7 linked regions of the Homo sapiens genome follow. The protein of the gene in region 7 purifies or fractionates together with the protein of the main gene of each other region. This does not show direct contact. Each region holds a gene or a part of one and is shown on either strand. Other genes may lie near its edges. The genes, in order: MCM6, TMOD3, AP3S1, GAPVD1, RHEB, GTPBP1 and DUSP19.

The links.
Region 1: the proteins of DUSP19 (region 7) and MCM6 purify together in Homo sapiens (affinity purification with mass spectrometry, with the first as the bait; one large-scale study listed by BioGRID). This does not show direct contact.
Region 2: the proteins of DUSP19 (region 7) and TMOD3 purify together in Homo sapiens (affinity purification with mass spectrometry, with the first as the bait; one large-scale study listed by BioGRID). This does not show direct contact.
Region 3: the proteins of DUSP19 (region 7) and AP3S1 purify together in Homo sapiens (affinity purification with mass spectrometry, with the first as the bait; one large-scale study listed by BioGRID). This does not show direct contact.
Region 4: the proteins of DUSP19 (region 7) and GAPVD1 purify together in Homo sapiens (affinity purification with mass spectrometry, with the first as the bait; one large-scale study listed by BioGRID). This does not show direct contact.
Region 5: the proteins of DUSP19 (region 7) and RHEB purify together in Homo sapiens (affinity purification with mass spectrometry, with the first as the bait; one large-scale study listed by BioGRID). This does not show direct contact.
Region 6: the proteins of DUSP19 (region 7) and GTPBP1 purify together in Homo sapiens (affinity purification with mass spectrometry; one large-scale study listed by BioGRID and IntAct). This does not show direct contact.

What each region holds. Positions count from the first base shown.
Region 1 is NC_000002.12:135,869,944-135,873,443, reverse strand, and holds part of MCM6 (DNA replication licensing factor MCM6), read left to right. Parts: intron 1-600; coding exon 601-747; intron 748-3,082; coding exon 3,083-3,193; intron 3,194-3,500. UniProt on the Homo sapiens protein: Acts as a component of the MCM2-7 complex (MCM complex) which is the replicative helicase essential for 'once per cell cycle' DNA replication initiation and elongation in eukaryotic cells.
Region 2 is NC_000015.10:51,899,153-51,902,652, forward strand, and holds part of TMOD3 (tropomodulin-3), read left to right. Parts: intron 1-1,002; coding exon 1,003-1,146; intron 1,147-2,739; coding exon 2,740-2,884; intron 2,885-3,500. UniProt on the Homo sapiens protein: Blocks the elongation and depolymerization of the actin filaments at the pointed end. The Tmod/TM complex contributes to the formation of the short actin protofilament, which in turn defines the geometry of the membrane skeleton.
Region 3 is NC_000005.10:115,911,258-115,914,581, forward strand, and holds the end of AP3S1 (AP-3 complex subunit sigma-1), read left to right. Parts: intron 1-831; coding exon of another isoform or gene 832-879; exon of another isoform or gene 880-2,098; intron 2,099-2,104; coding exon 2,105-2,233; 3' UTR 2,234-2,824; downstream 2,825-3,324. UniProt on the Homo sapiens protein: Part of the AP-3 complex, an adaptor-related complex which is not clathrin-associated. The complex is associated with the Golgi region as well as more peripheral structures.
Region 4 is NC_000009.12:125,365,267-125,367,707, reverse strand, and holds the end of GAPVD1 (GTPase-activating protein and VPS9 domain-containing protein 1), read right to left. Parts: 3' UTR 501-2,441; downstream 1-500. UniProt on the Homo sapiens protein: Acts both as a GTPase-activating protein (GAP) and a guanine nucleotide exchange factor (GEF), and participates in various processes such as endocytosis, insulin receptor internalization or LC2A4/GLUT4 trafficking.
Region 5 is NC_000007.14:151,492,396-151,495,895, forward strand, and holds part of RHEB (GTP-binding protein Rheb), read right to left. Parts: intron 1-3,500. UniProt on the Homo sapiens protein: Small GTPase that acts as an allosteric activator of the canonical mTORC1 complex, an evolutionarily conserved central nutrient sensor that stimulates anabolic reactions and macromolecule biosynthesis to promote cellular biomass generation and growth.
Region 6 is NC_000022.11:38,704,574-38,708,743, reverse strand, and holds the start of GTPBP1 (GTP-binding protein 1), read right to left. Parts: upstream 2,801-4,170; 5' UTR 2,789-2,800; coding exon 2,597-2,788; intron 1-2,596. UniProt on the Homo sapiens protein: Promotes degradation of target mRNA species. Plays a role in the regulation of circadian mRNA stability. Binds GTP and has GTPase activity.
Region 7 is NC_000002.12:183,088,747-183,092,246, forward strand, and holds part of DUSP19 (dual specificity protein phosphatase 19), read left to right. Parts: intron 1-3,500.

The sequences.
Region 1 (3,500 bases), about 47 Mb from region 7:
ACACCTCATTTCCATGTATTCTTATTTCTGTTCTGCTTCTTAAATCCCTGACTAATTTGTTAGTTTGCAAATTCCCTACAGAAATGGAATCATTGGGTTTGAGACTGAATTTCTTGATTTAACATTTTCCAATCTTAATTATACATGACAGTAGTAAAAGAAGAGTTAGTTGTTGGGTTTTTTTGTTAGTTAGCAGTTAAACCTCACAATCATGGTGGAAGGCAAGGAGGAGCAAGTCACTGATGTCTTACGTGGATGGCATCAGGCAAAGAGAGCTTGTGCAGAGGAACTCCTCTTTTTAAAACCATCAGATCTCGTGAGACTTACTATCAGAGAACAGCAGGGGAAAGACTTGTCCCCATGCTTCAATTAACTCCCACCAGGTGCCTCCCACAACATGTGGAAATTCAAGTCGAGATTTGGGTGGGGACACAGCCAAACCATATCAGAAGGGAGGAGTAACTTGCCCCAAGTTACAGAACTGCCAAACATGGGCCTGTCTGAGCCTAGTTGTTGGACTTTAACCAATGTTCTGAATTATCATTCAGGTTCTTTGTACTGCCTGTGTCCTTAATCTAGTTGACTCGAATGTACCTGCAGGTTTCAGAGCAGCGATGGAGAAATTAAATACTTGCAATTAGCAGAGGAACTGATTCGTCCTGAGAGAAACACATTGGTTGTGAGTTTTGTGGACCTGGAACAATTTAACCAGCAACTTTCCACCACCATTCAAGAGGAGTTCTATAGGTATGGGCATATTAATCTTCTTTACTTTGAATAGGGGTTGAAATCCGGGAAGCCAGCTCTTCTTGGACTGTAAGTGTTCACTTGTGTAGCAGAAGGTCAGCTTTCACAGTTATTTCCCACTGAGAAGAGGCGCTTTGATACTGCCAGTGGTCGTTTTAGTACTGCTCTGAACTTCATGTAGGCCTTTGTAGAGCCGAACGTTTTTTTGTTGTTGTGTTTTGTTTGTTTGTTTGTTTGTTTGTTTTTTGAGACGGAGTCTTGCTCTGTCACACCTAGGCCGAAATGCAGTGGCGCGATCTTGGCTCACTGCAACCTCTGCCTCCCGGGTTCAAGCGATTCTTCTGCGTCAGCCTCCCGAATAGCTGGGATTACAGGCGCCCACCATCACGCCCGGCTAATTATTTACATTTTTTAATAGAGACGGGGTGTCACCATGTTGGTCAGGCTGGTCTCGAACTCCTGATCTCAGGTGATCCGCCCGCCTCGGCCTCCCAAAATGCTGGGATTACAGGCGTGAGCCACCGTGCCCGGCCAGAGCTGAACTTTTTTTTTCAAATACAAATGTTGAAAATCTTTGCTTTCTATATAGTTTTCCCAAGAGGAAAACTGTACTTACTTACTTTTGTGTCATTCCATTGATCCTTTTTCCCCACAGGAATAGGTGTTTGTGTGGGTCCTTTTCTTGTACTGGGGATATCTTTACAGCATTGACGTTGTTGTACTTCTTGTTCCCTTAAAGTTTAATTTTGTTTTCGCTTATAAAAGTAATAGGTATATATTGTAGAAAATGGAGAAGAGTAAGGAGAATTAAATTGCTTATACACTTGTAATCCACCACCGTCATTAGCAGATCTGCTACAACAGAGTTCCAGGAGCCTTCCAAGTCTGCAAGTGCAGAGTTTTGTAAGGATCTTCTGTCACATTTTGATGTCTTTGTGTGTATGCTGTGTATGAAATTACTCAAATTCATATAAAATTTCTTAAACTCATACTAATAGCTCCAATTGTGGTTTTTTGGTAGAAATACTATGGTTAGACATTATATTTAATAGAAGGCTTTTATTTTGTTTTGACTTGTTATATATAGCAAGAAACATCTTTGCACACAAGACTTTGTATTAGGATTAAATAAATGTGACAGTCTATAGAAATAGAATCAGGTTAAAATAAATTGTGGACAGTTGTGAAAGATAAATGAAAACCCAGGGATAAGGAGGCACAGTCTCGTTCATTTCTTAGTAGATTAGGAGATGGAGGATTTGTCTGTGTTTCTGGTCATAGCTGATGATCAAGAATAATTGGAGGGGGTAAGTAAGCAACAGGATTTATTGTGAAAGCATGCAGCAGTAGAAGTTATAGCACTGACAAATAAGGGAGAGGTAGACAATCAAGCCTGGTGGTAGAAGCAGCTGTGCCATGCCTCATGCACAAGCCAGGCAGCAGTTCTCTTTCCTGAGAGTAGCGCCTTTTTTAGAGGGTTTCAGACCCCACTTCTTAAACAAACTAAGCTGGAGTAGGTATTAGAAACATATCAAAAGGACATGCATACTTCACTCTCACCAGTCAAATGGAGCATTTTTGCCAATTTGTTCTCACATTAGTGCACAAATACTTCTCCTGTCCTCATCCATTTCTTATCAAACCAGCCAGATGTGGTGGCTCACACCTGTAATCCTAACACTTTGGGAGGCTGAGGTGGATAGATCACTTGAGCCCAGGAGTTTGAGACCAGCCTGGACAACATGGTGAAATCCCATTTCTACAAAAAAAACCCCACAAAAATTAGCTGGGCATGGTGGTGCATGCCTGTAGTGCCAGCTACTCAGCAAGCTGAGATGGGAGGATCACCTGAGCCTAGGTAGATTGAGGCTGCAGTGAGCTGTGATCGTGCCACTGCACTCCAGTCTGGGTGACAGAGTGAGACCTTGTCTCAGAATGAAACCAAAGAAATTGACTGACTTGACACATGACTTACTAAGTCATAAACAGCCCACAGAAAATTCACAGTATTGAGCATAATATTGACAAGATGATTGTTCAGCTAGTCATCTTGGACAGAGGAATGGCCAACAGTGTGGGTGCTGTATGATTATTTATGTGCTATATGATAATCAGGTATGGTATGACATTTTATATTTAGTGTTCCGGTGGGATAGGAGAGAACTGAAAGAGGGTCCTAAACCTAGAGTAGATAATAGAAGTGTCCTACACAGTTAAGTTCTAAGGTTTAGTTGTAACCAGATGAAATTCCTTAATCTCGGCTGTTGGTAGGTATGTAAAGGGAAGGAGGCCTTGGTAAACCTCTAAGGTATCAGCTGACTTTTTTGTTTTTCAGAGTTTACCCTTACCTGTGTCGGGCCTTGAAAACATTCGTCAAAGACCGTAAAGAGATCCCTCTTGCCAAGGATTTTTATGTTGCATTCCAAGACCTGCCTACCAGACACAAGTAAGAAACCCTTCTCTGGAAAAAAAGGAATTCACCAAATGGTATAAGTACCACTTAGCTGACAGTCAGAAAACTTGAGAGGTTGCCTTGATCTGCTATTAGCTGGCTATTTAACATTATACAAATCACTTTTACCTCCCTGAGCCTCAGTTTCCTTGTCTGTGAAGTCTTTTGGCTTAGGTTTTCTACCTAAATCATGCAAAAAATAGGTTTGTTGCTGTAAAATTACTTTTTCATAATTGATAATCACAATAATTATAAAACAAGTACTTATAAAATTGATGCTGTAAAATACCAGGAGGAAAAA
Region 2 (3,500 bases), on a different chromosome or scaffold from region 7:
ATTTACCCTCATTTTGGCTTCACATGATCCAGCTACAGCAAGACCCAAATAAGAAAAGATGTTACAGCGACATTGATGAAGTTGGTCTAACACAGAAACTGAAAGAGTGAGAGAGACAGAAGAAAGAAGCATGAAGTAGGGAATGAGGAGTAGAGAATGTCACCAACGGGGAATTACATGTGACCAAAAAATCAAAAGATTATGACTGGGTACATATGAAAAATAGGTACAGGCCAGGTGTAGTGGCTCACACCTGTAATCCCAGCACTTGGGGAAGCCGAGGTGGGTGGATTGCTTGAGCCCAGGAGTTTGAGACCAGCCTGGGCAACATGGTGAAACCCCATCTCTACAAAAAATACAAAAATTAGCCGGGCATGGTGGCACACAACTGTAGTCTCAGCTACTCAGGAAGCTGAGGTGGGAAGATCAATTGAGCCCAGGAGGCAGAGGTTGCAGTGAGCTGTGATCCTGCCACTGCACTCCAGCCTGGGTGACAGGGCAAGACCCTGTCTCAAAAAAAAAAAAAAGAAAGAAAAGTAGATACAGTCATCCATGGGTTCAACCAACTTCAGATCAAAAATATTTGGAAAAAAATTCTATGAATTTCCAAAAGCAAAATCTGAATTTGCTGTATGCCAGGTACTATGTTGAATCCACAAAAATGAAGTGATGTGTAGGCATTGTATTAGGTATATTAAGTAACCTAGAGGTAATGAAAAGTATACAGGAGCATGTGTGAAGGTTATATGCAAATACTATGCCATTTTCTATAAGGCACTTGAGCATCTGAAGATTTTGGTATCTGCAGATGGTCCTGGAACCAACCCCCAACAAATACTGAGGGACAACTGTACATGTGAGAGCTATGGGCTACTGTGTCAAACTGAAACAACTAATGACAAACATTAAGGCAGTTAATTAATGTATTTATTTATGGCATGTACAATATGTAGTAGGTACTGTATCAAATTTTAATCTCTTAATATTTTCTCTAATTTCTAGGCTTTTGCAGAAATGCTGAAAGTGAACAAAACTTTGAAGAGCTTAAATGTGGAGTCCAACTTTATCACGGGAGTTGGGATTCTGGCACTGATTGATGCGTTAAGAGATAATGAAACCCTGGCAGAGCTCAAGATTGACAATCAGGTCAATGTTCTACAATAATAACGTCGAGGAAGCTACAGCCCACGCTGCTGTGTAGGGCTTGGCGACTCAGGATGGGGATGGGAGGCGGGCTGTCAGGGATCCCTGTTGGAAGATGCTGGGCTGAAAGGAGAGCTGACATTTGGGGTATCTAGAATATTAACTCAGTGTATATAACAGTGTATACAATGTAAAGGTGTATACTCTCCCTAGATCATTTTAAGAGAATTTAGATGGCTATCTAGTTTGAACTGAGAGGACTCTTACATGTGACCTAGTCCACCTTCCAATTTTTCAGCTCTGTGCTGGCAAGGTCCACATTGTAGGGTTTTTGTAAAAGGCAGAGAGATACATGTTAGAAATGTTTCCATCCAGAGTAGCTATTAATTTTTTTATTTGAAAAAATAACTCCATTTATTTGAAAAAATATTTGTTAAATGTCTCCTTCAGTCCTTCAAAGTAAATACATTTTGTAAACTATGAAGGTGGAAAAGAGGATTATGTCTTAAAATTTAACCCAGTGCTTCATAATCCATGTTTTTCATTTTTTTATTGAGATATAATTACATACAGTAAAATTCATTTTCTTAAAGTATACAGCTAAATGGTTTTTAGTATATTTGTAGAGTTTTGCAGCCATTACCACTAATTCCAGAACATTTTCATTACCCCAAAAAGAAACCCCATACCCATTAGCAGTCACTCCCCATTCACCCCTCTCACCAGGCTCTGGCAATCACTCATCCACTTTCTGTTTCTTAGGATTTGCCTATTCTGGACAGCTTATATCTGTGGAATCAAACAATATTTGATCTTTTTGTGCCTGGCTTCTTTCACCTGGCATAATGTTCTGGAGGTTCATCTGTATTGTAGCATACATCAGGACCTCATTCTTTTATGACTGAATAATATTCTATTCCATTTGGGGTGTGTCCACATACGGGCCACTAGAAATAATGCTGCTGTGAACATTCATTACAAACTCTAACATGGACATAGATTTTCATTTCTCTTCAGTATATAGCTAGGAGTGTATTGCTGGGTCACATGGTAACTCTATGTTTAACTTTTTGAGCAGCAGCCAGTTTTCCACAGTAGCTGTACCATTTTACATTCCTCTCAGCAATGTCCCCATTTTTCCACATTCTTGCCAACACTTGTTATTATCTATCTTTTTTATTATACTTATCCTAGTGGGTATGAAGTGATATGTCATTATAGTAATTCACACTTTTTTGATGTCTATATGATCATATTACTGAACTTTAAAAAGTTTAGTGTGTGTGTGTGTGTGTGTGTGTGTGTGTGTGTGTGTGTATAAAGTTCCAGTGAGGCTGTGGTGATGATTGGGTCAATGGGTAAAATCCCCTTCCTGTGACAAACATTTCATAGCTTTAAGTGACCAGTTTTCTACAACAAACAATTTGTTCTCAGTTACAAATCAGTACTTGGAACTACTGAACTATGTATATGTTGTAGGAATTGGGAACATTTAAAGAGATCAAAGAATTAGCATGTGCCTGAATGTCTTAATTTACCTTGAAAAGTATTTTGATCTAGTTTATTAATATTGTTCTTTTTTTCTAATTACTCCAGAGGCAGCAGTTGGGGACAGCTGTAGAATTGGAAATGGCCAAGATGCTTGAGGAAAATACAAATATCCTTAAATTTGGATATCAGTTTACACAGCAGGGACCACGAACCAGAGCAGCTAATGCTATAACAAAAAACAATGACTTAGGTAAGACATAGTATCGATCAAGTTTCTGAGTTCTATCACAAGCTAACGTATTGGGGGAACTTCTTTCCCTCTTAAGAATAAATTCTAACAGAGAAGTTATTTGGCCTTTGTTTCTAAAATCTGCATGGTCCTTTATATACTGATTGAATTCAAGTTCAATTAAAGTGAGGTTGTGATGATTGGGTCAATGGGTAAAATCAGCTTCCTGTGACAAGCGTATTTCATAGTTTTAAGTGACCAGTTTTCTACAACAAACAATTTGTTCTCAGTTACAGATCAGTCCTTGGAACTATTGAAACAAAGATTTCAACATTATCGGAAAGTTTTTTGCCCTTTTAATCAAGCGGACCCAGATAGAAATTCAATTTTATATGATAGAATGTGGATATAGAAATATATAAAATAGAGAATAATTATATTTCTCACCCAGGTTTTTTGTTGTTGATTTTTTTTGAGACGGAGCCTCGCTGTGTTGCGAGGCAGGAGTGCAGTGGCGCCATCTCGGCACACTGCAACCTCCGCCTCCCAGGTTCAAGTGATTCTCCTCCCTCAGCCTCCCGAGTAGCTGGGACTACAGGCGTGCGCGCCGTGCCCAGCTAATTTTTGTATTTTTTTT
Region 3 (3,324 bases), on a different chromosome or scaffold from region 7:
TGTACATTTAATACTGAAAACATTATGTTTACTATTTATAAGTGTAAACCATAGTGTCCAATAAAATACACAGATAAACACACACACACACACGCACAATTTCTCTCACAATAATAAAATCCCTTAATAATTCACACCTTTAAAATATTTATACTCAAATATTTTGTCAATACTTTTCTATAGTCAGTTCATTATTTGTCTTCTTTATGGAAATTCCTAAGTAAAAATAGTGGCAAATTGGTCTTTTAACTAGAAAAATTACAAAATCCTCCTATCTAAAAAATGATACTACCTCCAGGACGTCTGCAATTTTGTAAATTTTTCTTCCTTAGTAGACAACATACTTCCTGGTAAAAGAAAGCCAAAAGATGGTAAACCTCTTTGAATTGGATTCTTCTTTGATCCCAACCCACTCTAAATTTTGGTAGCTAGACCTTTAACTTGAAACGATCAAATTAAAGACCCTTTCAAATATTATACATGCTGCCTTAATTATTATTTAGTTGTATCTCCAACATCTTTGGGGGAGCAGGAAGGAAGGGGGGGTAACAAAAACTTCATTGCTTCAGGTAGGTATAAGTATAGAGGTCAATCACATTTTTAGTTGTACATCAAAAATAACTAACATCCATTAAATTATAAAACTTCTCCAGCCCTATTCACTATTTAATTGGGTATGGAGTTATTCATTTGTATCACTCTTATCATTGCCTGTGTAGAATATACTTATTATTAATACTATTCTACTAATTTTTCTATTATTTCCAATTCTGAATTGATAATCCATGGCTTTTATTTCATTGCTTAACAATGTTTGTATCCTTTATTTAGCAAATAGTTTACACTGGCCTATTTTGTATCAGTCAAGATTTTTCTCAGGTAACAGCTTTATTATTATTTTTATTTTAATTAACAAAGGTAGGATTACATAAGAAAAGAAAACTAAAATTATGAAAAGGGACCTTAAAGCTAGTGTTTCTAATTTTATGGACATTGCCATATATAATCTAATCAAAGTGGAAGATTCGTTTTTGTTGTCTATTTTTGTACAAAATGATGCCACTGAACTCAGATGTCTTTGTTGACTTTGCTTTATTATATAGCCTGAATAAAAAGTAATGAAATGTAATTGGTATATAAATTAAACCTCAAATATGAAGGCTGTTAACGTAGGTGAGAAAAATGATATGTATGCATTTTCTTTTATTTGTAAGCATATTTTCTTTTAAAATTATTTCACAAATTACAAATGTTCCTACTAATAGGAAAGCCAAATATTATGCACTAGTGGTACTTACTGGAAATTTTAGAATTCATTTATTTATATTTACTACCTCTTGCATTTATGCTTTTCTTTCTCTAAATTTGTAAACTGTAAGCTGAATATATGTTGCTGAATCTATGCTATATGACAAAACATTTTTAATCGTTATATTTTTACTAATGCATCAAAGGGTTGGAATGATCCTCTTCGTGTAGTTTCATCTTTAGGCAGAACTATATTCTTTGGATTGAGGCTTTACTTGAAAGCCTATTTTTTTAATGTTCTAGAACTTTATTAGAAAAGTTTAAAAGAGCCCTCACAATTTAAAAAACTAATTTTATTGTTTTAAAATGTTTTAAGGGTTTATCCCTAAGAAATTAAACAAGCACAATCTATTACTTGCAATTTTTATTTCACAGCACATATTGCTAATAAATGCCATTTTAAAAGCAAAAGAAAATCTATCACAATCGTTGCAAGAGATATTTAATAAGGAAACTAATGTAAATCATGCTTCATGCTATCTGTCAGTTAAATCAAGATATAGGTGAAGATTTAGGTTTTATCATGTGAATATTGTGTGGTAGTGCACATTAATTTGTATTTAAATCTTTACATTGTTATCATTGCATGTGTTCACTGTATTTTTTAATGTGTCACTGTTTTCTCTTTATAGATTAGTATTTCAAAGTAACCATTCCATACCAATTCAAACTACCATCTGGTCCCTAAGCTTGTTATATGAAAATCTTTTATCATTGTCTTCCATTGTAAGTGTTTTATGATGAGCTACACCTGAGTTGTACATTTTCTTTTTCTTTTATTTGCTTCTGTATACAGGCTGGCTTAGCAGGAGCTCCAGCCCGTGCTGTATCAGCTGTAAAGAATATGAATCTTCCTGAGATCCCAAGAAATATTAACATTGGTGACATCAGTATAAAAGTGCCAAACCTGCCCTCTTTTAAATAAAAATGTAAAAAGGCCACTCCCAGGTAAAATCCAGGGGGAAGAGTCATCTAAGTTTACCATGCAGTTGTTTACCAAAAATAGAGGAGGAGAGTCTTAACTTTTGCTCTTGGATTTAAGTCAAGGTACTGTATAGAAGTTGTGTAAAATCAGTATGAAAGTTCAATGTTGCTGTTCTTGCTCAGTGATTTTAAAGAAATTGAGTAGTTCCTATGTGATTTTTTTTTTTCTTTTCTAAACTGCATTCCTGTGCCCACCTACGGCATGCCTCTATGTATTGGCTACTACAGTGTTTTAAAAAGTGTTTCAGATATTTCTCTAATTATGTACAACCTAAAATGTTGGTGTTTTGTATGGATCACAAGTGCAGCATTCCTTAATTCCTTCTGCTATATGTCACACAGTTGTTATTTGGAGAACCAAGTATGTATTGCATGAAAACATTATGACTTTTTTCTCTTAGTTTAAATAAACTCCAAGGTAACTGGACTTCTAAAGCACCTTTCTGTTTGCCTGATATCTACTTTAGCAATAATTTTTTTTACAACCCTCTGACTCAACAAAGTAAATAAAAGTATATTTTATCACTATTAAGCAGATGTTAATGTCGATTTATTTTTTACTCATATTTTTAATATTCAGAAACTCAGTAAATTATTCGGAAACTCAATTATTTCACAAATCAAGAGCAGTGTATCTTAGGCATATTGCGCAAGATGAGATCTGGAGTGGGGGGGCGACAGTCTTTCTAAAATGTATATTGAGAAAATGTAAAATCTTTTTTATACAAATAGCTTTAAGCCTTGCCTCTTGTTCCTTCTTGCCCAGATGGTAAAAAATAATTTCAGCCAATACCTAATTGATTTTGAATACAAAAACCCTTGGGACTCTACTTGTCTGTTTCATCCTAAAACAAAGTTAAACTAATGTTTTCTTAAGTCCTAACACTCACATATTCTAGTTTCTTATAATTGGCCCACATTTTATTTGGTCTTCCATGAACTGTGAGTGAGGTTACTTTTCCAGTTAGACTAAGGTTTTCCTTACAGTTCTAGTTCTCCTTCCTCAAATATTCTCTTTGAAATACTTCCATA
Region 4 (2,441 bases), on a different chromosome or scaffold from region 7:
TTAAATCCATAGATGAAGGTCTGGGTGCAGTGGCTCACGCCTGTAATCCCAGCACTTTGGGAGGTTGAGGCGGGCAGATCGCTTGAGCTCAGGAGACTGGGCAACATGGCAAAACCCTGCCTCTACAAACAATACAAATATTAGTCAGGTGTGGTAGCGTATGCCTGTTGTCCCAGCTACTGGGAAGGCTGAGGCTGGAGGATCTTTGAGAACAGGAGGCAGAGTTTGCAGTGACCCTAGATCCTGCCTCTGCACTCCAGCCTGGGCGACAGAGCCAGGCCCTGTCTCAAAAAAAAAAAAAAAAAAACCCTTAGATGTTCACCATTGTGTTAGTTACTGCCAGGTCATTCTAGTTCCTTCTTGTGCCATACTTAGCAAACACCCTTATTGTTCAGATAAAAAAGATGTGTGTGAATTCACGGAGAACATCAGAACATTCGGAAGTCAAATACGTTTTCAGAAATGCTTCTGAATATAAAATAGATGACAGAAACATAAAACCCTGTGAATCAAACTGCTCTCCCCTTTTAATCAGTTTTATAGAATATTTTACAGTACTAATCACATTAGGAGACAGGAGGGGTTTCCTGTACATATACAAGATTGTGCAAGCTCATTAATTGAGACTTATAGAAAGGTTTTATCTGTTTCAAAAGAGGCAGTACAGCTTTTTAATCCAGGTGAAGCACAAGAAGAATCCAGTAGACAGGAGAGTATTAATTTGACAGAGGTGAATTCCCCTAGTGCATGGCCGCTACCCACACTGTCTGCCATTATCCAAGTGGAGACGTCATCTCTCTTGAATTGAACCCTTGCTGAGCTCAGGCCTGTGGGATGCGGCAGCTCCAGGGTCACTCCATAGCTCAACCACAACTTAACACGGAAGCAAACTATATTTTCATTTATCCAAGTGTTCTCAAGAGTAATAAAGCTATTCCTTGTCCTACTACTTTCTAACCTACATTCTAAAATATATTAAGTAATTTTTAACCTGGCAAAGTTCTCAAGCATTTTGGCATTTAAAGTAATCGCAAATACCTCATCACTGTTAATCCACTTACTAAAAATCCTTTGGGCTTCAAGATAGTTTCAGATTTACTTCCCTTAAAATTAAAGCAATTGCGTACAAAATAAACTCACTAGACTTAAATATTTAAAAAGAGAGACAACAGCCTTTTCTTTAAAGAAACAAAGCAGGAAGAGATGGGAGAGAAAAATCTAGGAAGCACCAATTGAGGAAGTGAACCCCACTACACTTCTATCACTTTTATGCAATCCAGTAATAATTCTGAGTGTATTCCTACTTTCCCTCTTCACACCCAATCACATAGGAGAAAAACAATTTTAAAACACCTAGTTGACCTTACTCGGTCCAAAGTGGAAATTTCCATGGCAAACAATAGGAAAAAGAGTGCCCGGGTTCAGCACACCAGTCAGCTACAGATTCTTACGGCAAGAACACAGCCCCCGTATTGGGGCTGAGATTGTTCTCTTGCTCACGCACCTCAGGGACACATTTGTAAAGCCCACTTTAAACAAAGGCTTCCAGGACATAGGAATAGAAAAACCATGCAGCACATTTGCAATCCCTTAGAAAACCTGAGCCTCCTACTACAGCGATTTAACTATCTGTATCAGAAGGCCTTCATAAGCAGGTTTTTATAAAGAAAAAGCAGAAGAAAGCAATTACTGTGGCTGAGATTTTACCTAAAATGGAGAAAGAAAGCAAAATGTTTGACACGTTTAAATATATATACATATAATTTTGTGGTTGGGCACGGTGGCTCACGCCTATAATCCCAGCACTTTGGGAAGCCGAGGTAGGCGGATCACTTGAGGCCAGGAGTTCGAGACCAGCCTGGCCAACATGGCGAAACCCTGTCTCTACAAAAAATACAAAAATTAGCTGGGTGTGGTGGCATACACTTGTAATCTGAGCAACCAGGGAGGCTGAGCCATGAGAATCACTAGAGACTGGGAGATGGTGGTTACAGTGAGCCGAGATCACAGCACTGCACTCCAGACTGGGTGACAGAGCAAGACTATGTCTCAAAAAAAATTAAAATATAATTTTGTAAGTAAAGACAATCTTCAACTTGTATTTCTATTACTTCTAAAAGCAGAATATTAATACAAAATGCAAACCTGATTTTTCTTTTCCTCAGAGAAGTTAATCCTACAAGATTTCAGGGGACCTGAGCCAACTCTCTCTCCATTTAACATCCACTTTATAAATTCTATGTAGTAACTAGTGGCTGCTGAATGTTTCCTGGGCTGATTTTGTACTTTTACACTAATCTTTCATGTAAAGAAAGTACTGGAAGGCAGTGGAGGAAGAAACATTTGGGGAACAACTATTCCTCTTTTCTATTAAAAAAAAAAAAAAAAATCAAATCACTCCCCATCTCACATACCTGTCAAGAAATCAAACAGTGATGGTT
Region 5 (3,500 bases), on a different chromosome or scaffold from region 7:
CCTGAGGTCTGGAGTTCGAGACCAGCCTGGCCAACATGGTTGGTCCTGTCTCTACTAAAAATACAAAAAAAGTTACCCAAGCGTGGTGATGGGCACCTGCGATCCCAGCTACTCAGGAGGCTGAGGCAGGAGGATAGTTTGAACCCAGGAGGCGGAGGTTGCAGTGAGCTGAGATGGCGCCACTGCACTCCACTCTGGGCAACAGAGTGAGACTCTGTCTTATAAAAAAAAAAAAAGAAAAAAAGTAGGGGTTGCTGAGAAGGAAAGGCCACAAGTTGGTAGACCTATTTACTCCTTATCCGCAGCCCAATACAGTTCAAAATGTCTCTAGAATTACTAATACCTGAAATTATTCTCTACAAAGCAACCTACATGAGCATTTGAAAATTAAACGCTACTTCTCTGCTTCCAATCCTCATTGCAATTAGAATAAATTCTCAACATTTTTTTTTTTTTTTTTTGAGACGGAGTCTTGCTGTGTCACCCAGGCTGGAGTGCAGTGGTGCAATCTTGGCTCACTGCAACCTCTGCCTCCCGGGTTGAGGCGATTCTCCTGCCTCAGCCCTCCTGAGTAGCTGGGATTACAGGCACGCGCCACCACACCTGACTAATTTTTTTTGTATTTTTAGTAGAGACAGGGTTTCACCACATTGGTCAGGCTGGTCTCGAACTCCTGACCTCATGATCCACCCGCCTCGGCCTCCCAAAGTGCTGGGATGACAGGCGTGAGCCACCGCGCCTGCCCTAAATTCCCAGCTTCTAACCGTGGCCCACAAACACCAGGCCATCCCTGCTCTGGTTACCACTCTGACCTCATCCGCCAACAGCCCCCGACAACCCATCCTGAGGCTCCAGTCACATCCCTTCTGCTCCTGGAGTTCCTGCCTGCCTTGGCCCCTTTACTCTAGCAACCCCCACTGCCCCCATCTCTGAATATATGACTCATCTTTGTCATTCTGATCTGAGCTCAAATGTTAGTTTCACAGAGAAACCTTCAAGACCACCCTAAGGTAGTACCCATTCCTTAAAAGTCATTCTCATAGCTACTGTTTTATTAAGTTATTTGGAATGATATTCATTTAGTGAACACTCCACTGAAGCCAGCACAGGGCCAGCCGACACATTGTAAACATTGAGATTTCTGAACAAATGAACGAAATTAAAGCGTAGATCTCCAAAGGTCACTCTTAGCCATTTAGATACTACAAAAGATCTCAATTTTATACAAATGAAATACAAAACACAGTTCAACAGAAATTAAGAAACAATTCAATTAGTATTTATTGGTACCTAATCACAGGCTTGCCTGTGATATAGGAATACAATAGTTTAAGAATTCCACAAATTTAAAATGAATTGTGTTGAAAAGAAACCATGTTATATATGCTAGCCTGTAAAGGAGAATTTAACTCAAAATACAGCAGAACTACTTCAGGTAACAAAAATAGCAAGAAGAAAACTCCTCTCATGTTATTGAAACTGAAAAATTAGAAGGAGTAAAAAAAAAACAAACTGTTATTTACACTGAATGCTACTGCTTAAAGAAATGAAATTTAATTAGAAAGAAAGAAGGGAACAAACTTCTTAAGGGCTTTTGCAAGGTACTTCTAAGGACTCCAGTGGGCTTTTTATACCCTTATGTGGGTAGGATAAGGGTTTGTGGGGTTTTTGTTTTGCTTACAAATGGAAAGAAAGGAAAGAAAGCGATCATTTTCTCCCTAAAGATATGGGCAAGAGTTACAAAGAAAAAAGGAAATAATATAATTAAAAAGATTTTTGCAACATTTTGTGTAGTAGAACTGGACTAAAAATAGTGAAAGAGGGGCTAAGTATGATACATGGGATAAGCTCCCCAAGCACTGGGCAACCAGGAACCCCTGGATCAGACAGTCCTCTGAACTGGCACTGGCCAAGTCTCGACAACCTGACTTGCGGGAGTGAAGGGACGGGGGAAAAGAGCCTCAGGAGTTTCCCGTGAAATTCAGGAAGCCACATTTGAACAGAAAAGAAAGTTACACACATTAAACAAGACAGCATGAGATCAAGTGCAAAAACGGAGTGAGAGAAGAGCTCCTTATTTGTATCACAATGGGCATACACTATTTGACAGGCTAAATTAACATTTCACTTGAAAACATAAGTAATCATTCCGGTAACAGACAATGTAGTCTAACCAAAATCACATCGCAGGTTGACAGCCAACTGTTGTTTTCATGAATAGTAAACTGGGATACCAGAATTTAAAACGTATTCCTCCAGGGTGGAAACTGGATTTTCAATCAGACTGGCCCTAGGAGAAAGGTACTGTTCATTAGCAGAAGTGGCACTGGAGAAAAACTACGTTTCCCTTGGGTCTCTCCTCCCTGGGGCTCTCCCGCCAAGGTGAGGTCATTAATTATTTAACTAATCCAGAAGGGATAGGAAGGCTATATTTGCTAACATGCTGTTTTTTGCCATTTCCATTAAAAAGTGCTATTATTAACTAGTGTTGAAATCTTGACAAGTCAGCATTAAATGCTAATGAATCTTCATAAATAAACCCCACCGCTCATTTTCAAGTGTTCTCAGTTCCAGTTGTAATTTCTGGCTTTAAGGAGTGTCTTCTGGAGACGTAGTTCAGATCTTTTGGTTAGGTTTTTCTAGTTTGTTTGCAACCACAAAAAGGCATTGGTGATCTCTACTGTGATCACCTTTAACCTTTTTCTCTCAATAACTTCATATATTTACTTTGGCTTTTGTCCTTAGCAAATTCAGGTCTGGAAACACTGTTACTCGCTTGCTGAAGATAATCTCACACTCCAGATCAACTCTTTGGAAAAATGTTACATGAAAACTACACAGGAGTGATCCCAAATAAATGGAAAAGTAGCCCATACTCAGATGTGTGTTTATCCTCAAACACAAATCACTCATTTAATGACATAAATTACTATAAATGGTTTAAAAGGCAGTATCTCAATTCCTACAATTAACTGTCAAATACTCTTCCTCCAAACCAAAACCCACCTTAACTTTTAAAAATAAAAATTATTTTAAAAAATTCTTCTGAGCTTTTATCAGGGAACAGCATTGTATTATTTTTTCCAATGATAAAATGGCACAGTGAGTTTCTCAGCTGGTATTTTCACTACAGAAGGTGTACTTTCAGGGGTGTTGACTCAATCTTATACCTCATGATTACTGCAAAATAGGCACTGTTTACAGAATTATTTTAAGTTTTCAGATTAATATTGACTTTGTTATCATGCTTATTCTCCTAAAAAATAACTTATTAGCCCGGTGTGGTGGCTCATGCCTGTAATCCCAGCACTCTGGGAGGCTGAGGCCGGTGGATTGCTTGACCCCAGGAGTTTGAGACCAGCCTGGACAACGTGATAAAACCCTATCTCTACAAAAAAAATATAAAAATTAGCTGAGTGTGGTGATGTGTGCATATAGTCTCAGTTACTCAAGAAGCTGATGTAGGAGGATCGCTTGAGCCGAAGGGTTGAGGCTGCAGT
Region 6 (4,170 bases), on a different chromosome or scaffold from region 7:
AGCACCCTCATCTAAAAAGGCTGCACAGCCCCTTCATGCCCTCTCTGCTTCTCCTGAAGTAGCCTTTGAGCCTCAGGCCTTATATGAGCCAAATAATATACTACAATGTGTATGTCTGAGCCATAACCCATGGTAAAGAGGGCACAAGCAGCCTGCCTCCTGCTGCTTAACAGGAAGGGCAGGACCCAAGTGACTGAGAATATGGCACTGTGGATAGAAAGCGCAGTGCTTTCCATCTACATGCCAAAGTCTTCTACCTGCAGTTGGCATCTGGAAGCCCACAAGACATATACCTCATATACCTCCATGCCCTCCACCCACAGGCCAGTGGCTTCCAGGATAACAAAAGAATTCTGTTCTATCTTGTCTTAGCTATATTGAATATTTGGGAATGAAAACTGCCTGCAAGACTCATCTTCATCAACAAAGCACCATCACCATTACCACTACGAGGAGTATTAGCACCGTCATTTTGCAAATGTCTGCCAATAACATTGAAGTGTCAACCATTTACTTGGGTAAGCCATTTGGCAATCAGACCCCATTCTCTAACCACTCCTGTGTGACCTTGGACAAAGAATTTAACCACTCTGAGTTTCAGTTTTTCAATCTATAAAACGGAGCTAATACTACCTGCATCCTAAGGCCACTGTAAAGAGCAAATATAATAACATGTAAAGCATCTAGTCCACAGCTCAATAAATGTGAAACTACAAGGTTTTCTTCACCCAATCATTCCCAGAAAAACCTTGTTGGATGAAACTAGCCACCACTATTCACTAAGTGTTTCTCCCTTTGGAAGCTCTCGGAGCCTTAGGTCTCCACATTTTCTATCGTAAGGACATGAACCTTTCGCTTCTAATCTGTTCCTCCGGAATCAATCTATTCAACCCAACCCTTCTCTCCCTCCACACCATCACTTTTTCTTTTTGATATCATCGATATTAATATACATATGATTTTTTTTAATTGTAAGGAGGACTTCCCCAGCTATGTGATGAAATAACACTTCTAGGAATATTAAATGAGCTGGTCAAGAAATGAAGGTACTACCGTCTTTGCAACTCTGCCCTGCAATTTCCTATCATGTTTCTTCAGCACCTTGACCATGTGTTGACATCCAGTTTGTTTGCTCTTGAGTCAGGTCCATAATCTTGTAACTTCCTGAGTTGACTCATCAGAGCTTGTAATTGTAACCTGGATGTTTCCTGGGTCTTTTACATCGTCCTGGCCATCCCTCTCTCTAAGTTTGGCCATCCTCATTATGGCCTTACAGGCACAAGACAGGACCAACTTTGACAGGCTAGCTGGCTTCCAAGTGCTCACCTGAGACTACAATGGCAAAGAGCAGTTGAAAATAACTTGCTTAGGTTGCAGGGAAAGTTCCTCCCCAGTTTAGGACCAAGTTTCATGCAAATTTGCCGCCATAAACTATAAAAAGTCACAAACATTTTCAAAGCTGGATAAAATGTCTATCGTAACTATCCTACAAATGTAAGTGGTGGTATTGGTGTTCTATCTTTCACCCACTGCTATTTAATCTGCACAGGAAATTAGGAACTATCTCGTTCACTTCAAACATTTACTGAGTCTCTAGTATGCATCAGGCACTATTAGGTGTCTTCTTAAATATTTCTAATTTTTACAACCCATCTGTACTTTCTTAAGATGAGGTGGTTGGAGAACTGAAAGGTTAAGAAACTTTCCCAACGTCACAGAGCCTTTCGATGGTAGGGCAGGAAAGGGAACCCAGCCCTGTCTGACTCCCAAGTTGGCATTCTTTCCCTAAGGAACGTTAAGCACCTTCAAAACACCAGTCACATCTTGTATTTACTTTTCTATTCTTCACAATGTCAAGCCGTTGGCGAGGCCTTAATTCCTGCCTACCTTCTCGACAGCTCAAAAAACACGGTTTTAAACGTCCTTCACTGCTCCACTCATACAAGATGAGCTTCCACTCACAGGATAGCGAGACTAAGGAGCCTGACCATCTTTCCATTTTGTTTCGGGTGGCCTCGAAAAGTAGACATTCTCGGACATGCTCCTCCCCAGCTGAGCGACTACTTTCTGTTTCCTTTCCCGAGTCTGGGAAGAGACGCGGCGGCCACCCTGCCCTGGCCTCCGACTACCTGTCTTCATGAGCGTCTCGGCCCCCTGCCCGGGCCCCCTCGCCCCTCTGCTGTCCCGCGCGGTCCAGGGAGAGGAGACTCTCGGTCTCCGAATCCCCTCAAGTGGGGACCCGAAGAACGGGGAGGGGCACTGAGCGGGGACAGGGAACGCGCGGAGCGCAGCTGGCATCGGGCGCCCCCGTTCCACGTGGCAGAGCCGAGGGGTTACGATCTCGGCGGGAGACGGGAGGGCGGGAGGCTGGGTTGGCGACGCGGGGGAGCCAAGGTGGGTGCGGGGACCATGGGGACGGCCCCTCGCGCCGCGAACCCCCGCACGTCCCGGAGACTAGCAGGTGGGCGGGCTCGGCCCCTTCTTCCCGTTCCGCGCTCCCCGCGGACAGGGCGGCCGCTGGCCCCGCCGTCGCCCGGGAGACTGCTCGGCCAGCCGCCCGCTCCCCTCAGCGCCCGCCGCCGCCGCCCGGGCCTACCTTGCTGGTGAGGTCCAGCTCTGGCTCGCCGTTGAGCGCCTCGCCGTCCTCGCTGCAGTCCGAGTCAAAGCCGCCGTGGAGTCGGGCGGCGGCCGCCGCGGCCCTGGCCGCCCCCGGGGAGCTGGGCTCGGGGGCGAACATAGAGGCCGGGACCGGCGAGTCCATCGCGGAGCGACTGCGCTCCGTCGCCATCTTTAATAACTTAGGCTAATTCGTAGCCGGCTTCCCTCCCTCCCAGGCTCATTTGACTAATCTATGCACAGAGCCCCGCCCCGCTCCTTATCGGAATAATTTATGCAAAACTCCAGCCGCGTACTGGGTGACACGTACCTCTAGCTAAGAAACAGTCGACTAGGCCTCTCAGCCACCAATCCCTGCAGAGCTTTCAAGTACCTAATGAATAATTAATGAGGCCCAAATCCCAACAACAAATGTCTGAGACGTCACGCGCCCTGCTCCCAGCTTGGGAGGGGGCAGTACCGAGTCCCCGCTACCCGCCTGAAGCCTTCCCGCCAACGGAAGCAGAGAAGTGTCTGACTGACACAGCAGCCATCCAATGAGGAGAGAAATACAAACAACGTTACTCGTCAACGCCCCTTCACTCTCCTTGTTTCCAGAGGCGGTACTAAGCCTGCAAATCTTACTGCAAAACAGTAGGCGCTGTAAGCCTTCCGATGACGGACAAGGGCAGGACCCAATCGAGTCATAGAACAGGTCCCGCGCCTGGACCTGCTCATGGAGATAGTAAACTGCAAAATGAGCCTCCCACTCGATTCAGTGACTGAGGCAGTTGCTGGAACGCCGATGTCCAACGTGCTGGCATGCTCCAGGCAACTTTAATAGTAGGATCGATGCTGTAAGTTCCAAGAGTTGTAATACTATAGCAGCCAGAGTGAGGCAATAATTAAATGCTGACCTTAGGGAGAATTCTCCATTCACTGCCTTTGCGGAGGCAATCACACGAACTAAAAACAGAGGCAAGCAGCTAAAATTAAAAGCCAAAAAACACCTCACCACTTTTGTGGTGAACTGCTAAACCGAAATCTAGGGTCTCATAAGGTAGTTTCCTATGGATTATTTTTCCAGTGTCATCAGTTGTGAAAAGCCCCAACCCAAAATGCCATCAACACACGTTTTAGTGTCTTGAATTCCTGTTTCAAAAGCCGGAAAAGCCTAGGCCGTCATTGTTTGGCGAAATTAGGGATTAACCAACGTCTATGAATGTCGGCCTTGGCCACTCGAACCAGGCATCAAGCAAACAAGAGCATGTTTGAGAAGATAAGGAATCCAAGACTTAGGGTTTGGACCTAAACCCTAAATCTTTAGTGAGCAAGTGGCAGGATTGAAAATGGCTTTCAGTTTTGGGGATCTACCTGAGAAGAAAGAGACAGTCTCTTCTTGTCCCTGTTTTCCACTACTATCAAGTCTTATTTGCACAAACACAGCTGGGAATCTTGGACAGGAAGTCATCTGATTCCAATGGTCTTGATACTGTTCTTATGTGCTTTTTAATTTCTTCCTTGCCAAATTGCTCACCTCCATCCTATATGGGCCGGGAGCAATGGCTCACACTT
Region 7 (3,500 bases):
GCCTAATATTGGCCATTCTGTTTTCTTGTTAAAAAATTTACAGGCTCTGGATTGTAACATTCCAGTGTGTGAGTTAATAGTTTTAAAAATAAAAAGGATGTTTCTGTATTGGCTCCTTCTCTAAGGAGATGTAGAATATGCCAGAGATGGCAAAGTATAGATATCATCCATATTCATATTAACATTAGAAGAGATGTAAATGTTGCAAGTAAAAATTAGAGAGGTTAATCATATCTAGAAAGAAAAGCAAGAGATTGAATATTCTAATAAGCTTGGAATTTTAAATAAATTTAAAAAATAAAGTTTGCCTTAATTTGGGCCAGTAAATTAGAGTGGATTTTAGCTTGGGTTTCCTAAAAATAAAGCCTGAGATGAGGATTTAGAGCTTATGCTTAATTTGAGAGGTACAATCTCTAGGCAGTGAGAGTGGCAAGAAAGGAAAGTGATTCAAGGTGGGACGAGAAGCAATACAAAGTGATGCGTTTACCCTGCTGGGCTCATTTCACAGTGAGCTGACTGTTGGCTATTCAGCAGGTACAGCTACTCTACCACCCAAAATACCTCTGGACAGGCAGTACAAAGAAACTGCACCTCAACCCAGCCTGGAAGGGAGGATTTATCTGCCTGGCTTCCTGTCAGCTCCTGTTTCCCATTGGTCAAAGTTTGCCAGTGGGGATATAACCAACCCCACAATTCTAGGTTATAACATTCCACTCTTTCAGCAGCCACCTCGAAGCCAAATCTAACACCCAGTAATACAACTTTTCAACCAAGTTGAGAATTAGAAAATCCAGAACTCAGAGTACGCCTGTCTATACTGTGGACACCATGGAAGAAGAGCTCCTTCTTTGACAGGCAAAAGTGAAAGCAGGGGAGAGCAGTCAGCCATGGAGGTGGTAGCCGAGGTGGAGCATGCTGAGAGGGTCTGTGAGATGGCGGCACCACAGGAATCTGAGGAGCTGCAGAAAATGTTTCTGATAAGATGAATTAGATTTCAGAAATATGTTCTACCCTCTCAAGCCTTGTGTTTTATACTGGAATCCTAACCTCAGCCAATATTTCCCTGCCCTGAAAACTCAGTGCCATGACACAATCTCAGCTCACTGCAACTCCACCTCCTGCACTCAAGTGATTCTCCTGCTTCAGCCTTCCTAGTAGCTGGGATTACAGGTGCGCACCACCATGCCTGGCTAATTTTTGTATTTTTAATAGAGACGGGGTTTTGCCATGTTGGCCAGGATGGTCTCAAATGCCTGACGTCAAGTGATCCACCTGCCTCAGCCTCCCAAAGTGCTGGGATTATAGGCATGAGCCACCATGCCTGGAAGGCTAATATATATTTAGTTTTAGCAATAAAAATTCTTGAATTTTTTTCATTTTTTTTAAGAAAAGATCTCTTCATGCCTTTGTCTATTTTATATTCAAGTATTGTTAAATCTAATTACTCAGTGAATTACATGTTTCAAAACTACCTTTCTAGGCTATAGTTTGTTGTTTTCATCTTTTTGCATACCGTTGCCAAATGGAATGGATTCCATTTCCTAAGTCTTTACTCATTTCCCTCTGTACTTGCAAAACTCTATTTGGCTTCTCTGTCCTTCCTTTATGCCTAAAGGGACAGAAATACACCTGAGAAGAACAGTAATGGTAACTTCTATAGCCCAAAGAGTCCTTTTAGGAACTAAATTTATTTGTCCCCTCTTTTTATGTACAAAAGGTACAAAGTATAACAATGTGTATTTGATATTTCATGTTCATTGTTTATAAGATGTGATTTTAAAAACATGACGTAAGTAGTCCATGTTCTTTGTAGAAAAAATGGAAAATGCAGATGAAAATTAAGACACTTCCACACTTAGATATAAGCATTGTTAGCATTTTGATATATTTTTCTAGACCTATATATGTATTTTTATAAAAATAGTATCATACAGTTTATATTCTTTTATAGCCTGCCTTTTTTTTGGGAGGGCAACTTCATGACTTTATTTGTGGTACCTGTGCTTTATCTTGAAAATACCTTCTCCCCCTGTCCCAGACAGCGGGCTGGGAGGGGGCAGCAAAAAATAGAAGACTTCCCTCCCTATTGCACATGGACCCTATGTACAGGCCCACCCGGCTGAGGCCAGCAGGCCTCTTGGCACATTCTTGGATCCCTGCTCAGGAGGGGAGGGCTGACGGGGTGCTATCACATGTGAGATCGGGAACTCTGGGCGGCCACTTTGGTCCTGGGTACTGATATTTGCACTTCTTGGTCCTCAGTTCCTTCCTGGTCCTGTCTCTGGCCCTAGTCCCCTCTGTATAGCCTGCTTTTTATACTTGATGATTCAAATCATTTAAAATTTTTGCACAGTATTCTGGTAGTTGGTGATTCTATAATTTATCTTATTTCCTGCTATGAGACATGTAAGCTGTTTGTAGTTTTTTGTTCAATAGAAGTAAAAGTTCATTAGAGAGACATTATGGGTCTAAATAAGTACCTAAATTCACGAAGTTTTTAGATGCTTCTGTTACAAGTAGAGGGTCATGACTGCAAGTTGTCCAGGTTCTTGGCATTTTGAACAAATAATTGGACAAAACGCCCATCAAAGCAAAGAAAGAATGAAGCAACAAAAGAGCAAAAGCAGGGATTTATTGAAAGTGAAAGCACACTCCACAGTGTCGGAGCAGGTCCAAGCAGCGGCCCAAGGGACAGGATACAGAATCTTCTTGGGTCCAAATACCCACTAGAAGTTTCCCAATGGCCACTTCATGCTCACCTTATGTAAATGAAGTGGTATCCTGCAGTCAGTCTGATTGGTTGGAGAAAGCAGCCAACCAGAGGCTGAAGTGAAGTTACAAAGGTCACGCTCCTGTGCAAACATCTGATTGGTTGCAAAAAGCAACCAGTGAGAGGCTAGGGTGAAGTTACAAAGTTATACTTCTATGCAAACGAAGACTTGGCCTGCAATTAGTCTGATTGGTTGTGGACAGCAAATTTCCCATCTGCATGCAGAAAAGGTGAGGGGTTTGCAAAGGCAGTAGCCCCCGGTGCTTTTGTTACTTAGGTGTGGAAAGTTAGGGTTTTCCTTTGAATTTAGTTCTGGGAAATCGGAGTAAAACAGCCTTAGGTTCCCTGCCACCAGACCCTATTCTCTTGCTTTACTTCTTCCATTTTGTTTCAAAGCAGTCTACCCATCACTTTTTTGTATTTGTCATATTTACATTCCCCTCTACTACTGTGGATAGTCATGAGTGGACTGTTCTGACCTGTGCTCCTCAAAGTGTTGTCCAGTTTGCTACCAGACCTCTGCAGGATAAGAAGGTTGTGCCTGAATATAAACCAAGACATTGCTTAGTTCTTTGAGAGATTTTGGCTACTCCCCCACCCCACCCAAACGCTGAACTAAGGAGTATATTTTTAGTGACAATTGATTTTCATTCCACTGCAAAATTCTTATTTCATCATAGGTGGCTGTCAAGCACTTGCAGACTATCACATTATACCCAAGGTTTTTTTA